Homo sapiens: one gene and its partner. The protein of the gene in region 2 purifies or fractionates together with the protein of the main gene of each other region. This does not show direct contact. Each region holds a gene or a part of one and is shown on either strand. Other genes may lie near its edges.

The links.
Region 1: the proteins of HEATR5A (region 2) and ANKRD22 purify together in Homo sapiens (co-immunoprecipitation; one large-scale study listed by IntAct). This does not show direct contact.

Annotation. Positions count from the first base shown.
Region 1 is NC_000010.11:88,831,059-88,834,886, reverse strand, and holds part of ANKRD22 (ankyrin repeat domain-containing protein 22), read left to right. Parts: intron 1-2,860; coding exon 2,861-3,052; intron 3,053-3,828.
Region 2 is NC_000014.9:31,291,551-31,295,378, forward strand, and holds the end of HEATR5A (HEAT repeat-containing protein 5A), read right to left. Parts: intron 2,555-3,828; coding exon 2,341-2,554; intron 2,063-2,340; coding exon 1,755-2,062; 3' UTR 238-1,754; downstream 1-237.

The DNA of each region.
Region 1 (3,828 bases), on a different chromosome or scaffold from region 2:
CGCGATTTCGGCTCACTGCCGAATCAAGCGATTCTCCTGTCTCAGCCTCCAGAGTAGCTGGGATTATAGGCACCAGACACCATGCCCTGCTAATTTTTTTATTTTTGTATTTTTAATAGGGATGGGGTTTCTCCATGTTGGCCAGGCTGATCTCGAACTCCTGACCTCAGGTGATCCACCCACCTCGGCCTCCCAAAGTGCTAGGATTACAGGCGTAAGCCATCGCGCCCAGCCAAAACTTTCCATTTTTAAAGAGAAGCTGGAAAGCCAGATTAATACATGAAATATTCTAGTTTTTTAAATGTTGTTAAGTTATTTAAATATTTGAGAAAAGAGAAAAAGAGCTCTAAAGCCACTTGTTTCCAAGCTATTCATGGTAGACCACCAATTTCCAAATGCTTGATGAGTAGTGCTCACTGCTAATCACTCCATTATTAAATTTTCACTAGTTTATGGTAAAATCTTTTAAAAGGACAATAAAATGAATTTTTCTATAAAGCTAACTAAATCTACCCAATATAAAGAACTGCTTTCCCCCTGGTGATTATATTCTTACATATTTTGTTAAAATACCCTTCATTTATCTTTGTATTTGTTAAAATATCTTTTATGAAATAATAGTATTGTTTTAAATACATTTAATTGAAAAATTAAGAGTTGGTGACTTAACACTGTCTTGTTGCATTTAGTTTTGTTTTACTTATTTTTGAACTCCAAATGACTGGGCATTGCTGCTAGGACAATGGCAAGTCACTGAAGGTTTTATTTAAGCACTATTGTGTTGACATAACCCTGGACTCCAGCAGTGATGTGGAAGATTTGTTGGTTGAGACTAGAGTCCCAGAAATAATCGAATATGAAAACCCAAGGGAACTTCTGCCTTACTCCTTCATTTAATGACTGAGGACACTGAGATACAGTAGGGAAGTGAATTGTCCACAGTCACCGGGGGAGGTAGTAACAGAGCCACAATTACATCCTGTTTTTCTGACATGAGACAAGTGTTTCAACTGCCCCAGTCCTTTCTGCATCAGCCACACAGTATGCTGAGACACTGAAGTGCCCAACTGTTGGAAAGCTTAGTAAAGGGAAGACTTCAGGATAACAGAATAGGTGATTTGTGAAATTGTGCATTTCTAGTGAAACTTAAAGCCCATGTATCATGTTCATTTCATTTTTAAGGTACAGAAGTTTGCCTTTAATTGCTGCTGAGTTAATTTTCTGTTAGGATGTTTCTTTCATGAGTAGGCCTTTAGGTTTAAGAGTATAACATAGTTCACTTATTGTGATATTTGGCTATGTTAGAACCTCAGTTTATTAGCAAATACACCCACTTGACTTTCCCCTTGATACGTCCCAGTTTCCACAGGTGCTTATGTACCTACCCATACCAAAAAATTTTTTTCTTGTCATTTACTCTGTGTATGTGTGTCTCTGTCCTATTTCCCCACTTGACAGATACATTTTACATGGATAAGATAACATATTTTATTCTCTGGTACCTGTGACTGGCACACAGCAGGGATTTGACTTGATTATTAAAGAATGACAATTGCAATAATGATAACTTTCATACACTAAGCACCATCCATATGCCAGGTATTACTCTAAATGCTTTTTAAAAGACATCATCTGAAGATTAGTCTAAAAATATTCAGTGTTTGCCTCCCATGTGCTGAGTGCTGTGTTGAATGCTGGAGAAATAGCAGTAAATAAAATGGGGTTTACGGCCTGAACTTCAGTGCCTTCCTTCTCAGCACTGCCTCAAACCTCTCCTGATTCATGCTAGCCCTAAATACATGATTGTACATAATTAAGAAAAGAATTACAGTATGTCAGTTGCTGTGAGGGAGAGATACTGAATGTTGGGAGTAAGAAAAGACTTCTTGGATAAAATGAAAATTAAATTATGACATGAAGGGTGAGCTAGGTGTTATTCAGAAGAAAGGCAGGTGGTGTGTTTTATGCAGAGAGAGTATTCAGGGCAGAAGCCCAGATGGAAGGTACCAAACATGGTTTGGTTCAACCAAACTTTGAAGAACAGAAGTCGAGAAAGGCTGGAGCAGAGGAGGGAAAGAGGACAAGATCATGCTACCTGAAGTCTTGCTATTAAACTCCCATGGTGCCTTGTGAAGCTCTGTATAATGCTTTTTATAAACAGCATCTAATCAAGTGTAGTTAACCATATAATTTGTATATTATTTGCCTAAAAAACTGTCTTTTCTGCTCTGTTGAGCTCCTTGAATACAGGGTGCTATGTAGGTCTTATTTCATCACTAGTACTGCCCTAAACTCCTCCCCATATGCTTGTTTTCTATTTTATCTTTAGTAAAGATAAAGATAAAGACATTTTATCTTTAGTAAAGATAAAGATAAAGACATTTTGTCTTTACTAAAGATAAAGATATTTTATCTTTAGTAAAGATAAAGATAAAGGTATTTTGTCTTTAGTAAAGATAAAGATAAAGGTATTTTGTCTTTAGTAAAGATAAAGATAAAGGTATTTTATCTTTAGTAAAGAAAATGAATGCTTTTCCGACAGGCCCACCTACCTGTAAGCACTATACATAGTTTCCTTACTGAGTTGAATTTGTAGTATTTCATTTATTTATTCATCCATTTGATGGACATAAGTGTGTGCCAAGAAAACTTAGGAAAATGTAGGAGGTTCCTCATGGGCTAATTCTTGATCTAGACTTAAAGCTAGGCATAACTGAGACCAAAAAATCTCACCTGCAAAGCAATATATTACAATTTTAAAACATTTAAATTTTAATGTATTGGGTTATGACTTTTTTTTCGTTTTTGTGGTTTAATTATGCCAGTATTTCAAAACCTGCTTTTGTTTTTCCCGACCCAGCCCATCTGCCAAGCAGCCTATCAGAATGACTTTGGACAAGTGTGGCGGTGGGTGAAAGAAGACAGCAGCTATGCCAACGTTCAAGATGGCTTTAATGGAGACACGCCCCTGATCTGTGCTTGCAGGCGAGGGCATGTGAGAATCGTTTCCTTCCTTTTAAGAAGAAATGCTAATGTCAACCTCAAAAACCAGGTGAGGTCATGACATGAATGGAGAGTGTAATTGTTCATGATAATTCTTTTCTCTTTGAATCACTAGAAGTGGTGCATGTCATTTTTTAAATTGCTTGCAGCTCCTAATACGAACAATTATCTTAGCCTACTTTAGAAAGACTGACACATACCAAGGACATTTTATTAGGCTAAACAGCAAAATAAAACATAGTTCAATCAGCAGGCATAATTTGTGATAAATTATGTCTTTTTACCTCTGGTTCACTTATTTGGCTGGATAGAGCTTCTTTCTTTTCCTTCTTCCTCTCTTCATCCTCCTCTTTCTTCCTCTCCCCTCTTTCTCATTACTAACACAGAAGCAATGGCAAAGATTTCTTGGAAAAGAAATGCTGTTTCATTAGTTAGATTTTTACCTGCTATATTAATGTCCTGATCTCCAGAGGATCCTATAGTGTTCTTGTAGAATGAAAGAGTACTATTGAGAAATTTACCAAGGACAAATAAGCTCATGAGCCAGAGGTTACTTGAAGTCACACAAAAAGGTGTAAAGAATATATTTAAAGATGCAATATTAGCTACTTTGGAGCCTTCAGGACCAAGAAAGAGAAGAATATGTGTGTATTGCTGTGAAAATCCTTGTGGAGCCCTTTCTGAACATCTAGCATTTGCATCGTAGTGAAGGCAATATTTAAATTACACTGAATAAATATTAAGCCATTTTTTTGCAATCATTATGACTGTCCTGTACCCACTTATATGCATTCAAGGCGAGAAAACACTGGAAATCCCCCCTTG
Region 2 (3,828 bases):
AGGAGTGGGCAATCACCAGACAGAAGACAGGAGAGAAAAGGACATTTTAGGTAAAGGGAACAATAAATATACACTCAATGCCTAGAGACACTTAGGAAGAGACAGAGAATCTAAACCATCACAAATAATGCTCCAAAGAAAGGGCTCTTCTGAGAAAAAAGGCTGATTTTCTGGAATCCATGTGAGAGAAACCAACCTGCCATCTTTTGTTGGTAAAATAATTTAAAAATACAAGAATGATAATGAAAATTAGCTTTATTTATGTAATTTAGAAAAAATGATTGTAGTGTTAGAGTTTGTCAAATGTTTTCACTCTGAACAATTTACAATAGTATTTATATACAAACATAATAAAATAGGTACATCACATTGTTCTTGCTTCAAAATGTCTTCTCAATTCTGACATGCTTCTATCACTTCGGTTTGTAATTTTTAAGAGGGAAATGCTCTGTTTTGACACAGTGCTTGATTCACACAGTATAACACTGAAGTAGAAGGAGAATCAACAATCATGAACACAGTTAAAAAATATTTTTCAACCAATATGACTTTATCATTAATCTTTTTTCTATAATAAAATGTTTCCTGTTAAAAAAAATACTTGTATTCACCTGATGACCTAAATTTGTTGTACTAAATTTGGCATTTATATAAACCCATAGTTGATCTAAATACAATGTAGATATGAACCTAGGTTAAAACTCATTGATACAAATGTTTGCCACAAATGAAAATGAACAAAATTGGTAAGAACAGAGGTAAACAGAAAAATCCATTTGAAAAATAGTGGAAATGGCTTATTCTATTTAAAATGAGTAAGACTCAATTTCTGAACCCAATATAAACTAAACCAAAAGATGGTGGAAAACCATGATATAGACACCAAATCTTATGTTGCACTGTAAGGCTGTAAGTAATTTGTACTATTGTATACTGGATAATCCTAGACCAGGTTTCCTAAATAGCTCTCCAATCATTTTATCTTCTTGGAGAAATCAGAGAAAGTTTAATACAATTACTGAATAAGGCAGAATTTTTTTTTTTTTTTTTTAGATGGAGTCTCACTCTGTCGCCCAGGCTGGAGTGCAGTGGCACAATCTTGGCTCACTGCAACCTCTGCCTGCCAGGTTCAAGCGATTTTCCTGCCTCGGCCTCCTGAGTAGCTGGGATTACAGGTGTGTGCCACCACACCCGGCTAATTTTTGTATTTTTAGTAGAGACGGGGTTTCACCATGTTGGTCAGGCTGGTCTCAAACTCCCGACTTCGTGATCCGCCCGCCTTGGCCTTCCAAAGTGCTGGAATTACAGGGATGAGCCACTGTGCCGGGCCAAAGCAGAATTTTAAATCAGCAATTGGGATACAATATTAGTGCAGATAATTTACACTAGAGTCATATTTATATCTGTCACAGTATTAAGTATACCACATATGTATGGACTGTTAGAAGAAATTCATTTCATTTTTAAAGCAGTGGATTGTTTAGTAAGTTTAGTTCTTTAGCACTTTCTTAAAATTCCTGGCAAGTTAGCTCCATTGTCTTTTTAAATAGAAAAACAAAACAAAACAAAACACAAACCCCACGCACACACACAAAAATGTTAAGTATGCTGTTACTTTGAAGAGTCACAGCTATTTAAGGTAAAACAATCAACTAGACCTCTAAGGGCACTTGTGTCTACAATGTCCCTTTTGTCACCAAAGGCAATGATCAAGTATTTATTATATTAAGGTGCTTACTATTCCAAAAAAAAAATCAGAGGAAACTGGTCTTTAATTGGATGCTTGAGTTTTTTCCAGGACTCTTAGTATATTTAGATGTTGGTATCTTGACTTTGACACTTTCCTGATTGCCCTTTATAGCAGCCTCAAGGCGGGCTTTTAGGGCTGGAGAAGAAGCCACTAAACTTTTAAAAACAGATGAATACTGAGGTCCAATTTGCATGAGATTTTGTAGAGCAAAGTCATGTAAATTTCTCATTATGGAAGTTGCTGATCCCAGAGAATTTTCATCCAAAAGGAAGGAAATGAGGATGGGCAAAAGACAGGCCACCAGCTGAGCGCCTAGAAAGTAAACAAATAATATAAGTTCAGTGACATAAATGTTTCTAACAAAAGCCTGCAAATGCACTTGATCTGTATACATTTTTCCCCACTAAAGAAAACAATTCGTCCAATCTCTTCTAAATTAATACTAAATAATATCAATACTTGGGATTAACATAACACCTTTCAATGAATGTGAAATACAGATATAATGTGACTGATTGTTTTGCAATTTAAATAACAGTAAAATTCTGATTTTTGTTGAGACTGAGTATGAATTTAGTGCTGACACTTACGATGGTGTTCTTCAGCAACAGTAACCAGTGTTTCTAAGACCTTTATGCCTTCTTGGAAGATCTCAAGCTCAGCAGTGTTTTCAGGTTTTCTCTTGTCTATTTCCTGCAGTTTTTCCATGATACAGGATGCTAAAGAGTAAATGTATGGGTAGGAAACAGCTGGATTTGGATACTGAAAGATGGAATGTAGGAGCTGGTAGGTCTTGATTTGTACCTAATAAGGTAAGAGAAAAGAATAGCAAATACTATAAATAAATTTTTAAAAAGTCCCTGAGGACTCTTTGCTTTTTAAAGTAGTGAAGGTATTTAAATTTATTTCTAATTTGTGTTTAATTTTGAAAGTCCAAGGGCCAACAGGTAATCAAACATCTATGCTAACAGTGGTTGTGACAGTTTGGAATGGGAAAGAGGCATATAGGTAAACAGGGAAGCAAAGCTGAGTGTTAATTTTTCTTCTTTTCTCTAATTCCCATTTTCCCCCTCATGTCTTTCTCTATAATGTAAAAAACAAAAACACCACCAAAACCCCTCCTGTAACATTTTTTTTTTTTTTTGAGTGCCCAGGCTGGAGTGCAGTGGTGTGATCTCAGCTCACTGCAACCTCTGCCTCCTGTGTTCAAGTGATTCTCCTGTTTCAACCTCCCGAGTCGCTGGGACTACAGGCGTGCACCTCCACACCCAGCTAATTTTTTGTATTTTTAGTAGAGACGGGGTTTCACCTCGTTGGTCAGGCTGGTCTCGAACTCCTGACCTCAAGTGATCCACCTGCCTTGGCCTCCCGAAGTGCTGGGATTACAGACATGAGCCACCGTGCCCAACCTCCTAACATTTTTATGGGTAGAAAGCAAAACAAAACAAAACAAAAAAACACCCAAAACAAAACACATACAACCTTGAAAGATATTTTGTTGATTTCAGAAAATGTTTTAGACAAAAATGATGTATTTGATGTTCAAATGTCATGGTCTGAGTGTTTCAAGGAACGTCTGGACCATACTAATGTGTCATCAGGCATCAGAGTCCCGACTTGGAGACTGCTATACAAAGCTGCTGCAGGCAGCAGGCAACAGGACAGACGATAAAAGGAAATGACTATACATCAAAGATATAAATAAACTTTTATTGAGTTAACTGTAATGGTATTTTAATAATTATTTTTTCTGAGAGAAAATCTGGTTCCTGTATCTTCAGGAGTAGATATATGTGTGATCATTGGCTATGAACTCACCTAGAGGCACATAAAAAATAGGACATTACTCAAGCAAATGAAGGGGACATAAAAGAATGGGATAAATTTGTGTGTATTGCTTTTGGAATGGGTCCTGTTATTTCACATTCATATTACTGAAGGTATGTGCTGGAGTCTTTTTTTTGAGACAGCGTCTGGCTCTGTCATCCAGGCTGCGGTGCAGTGGCATGATCGTGGCTCACTGCAGCCTCAAGGTCCCAGGCTCGAGTGATCCTCCTGCCTCAGTCCCCCAGAGCAGC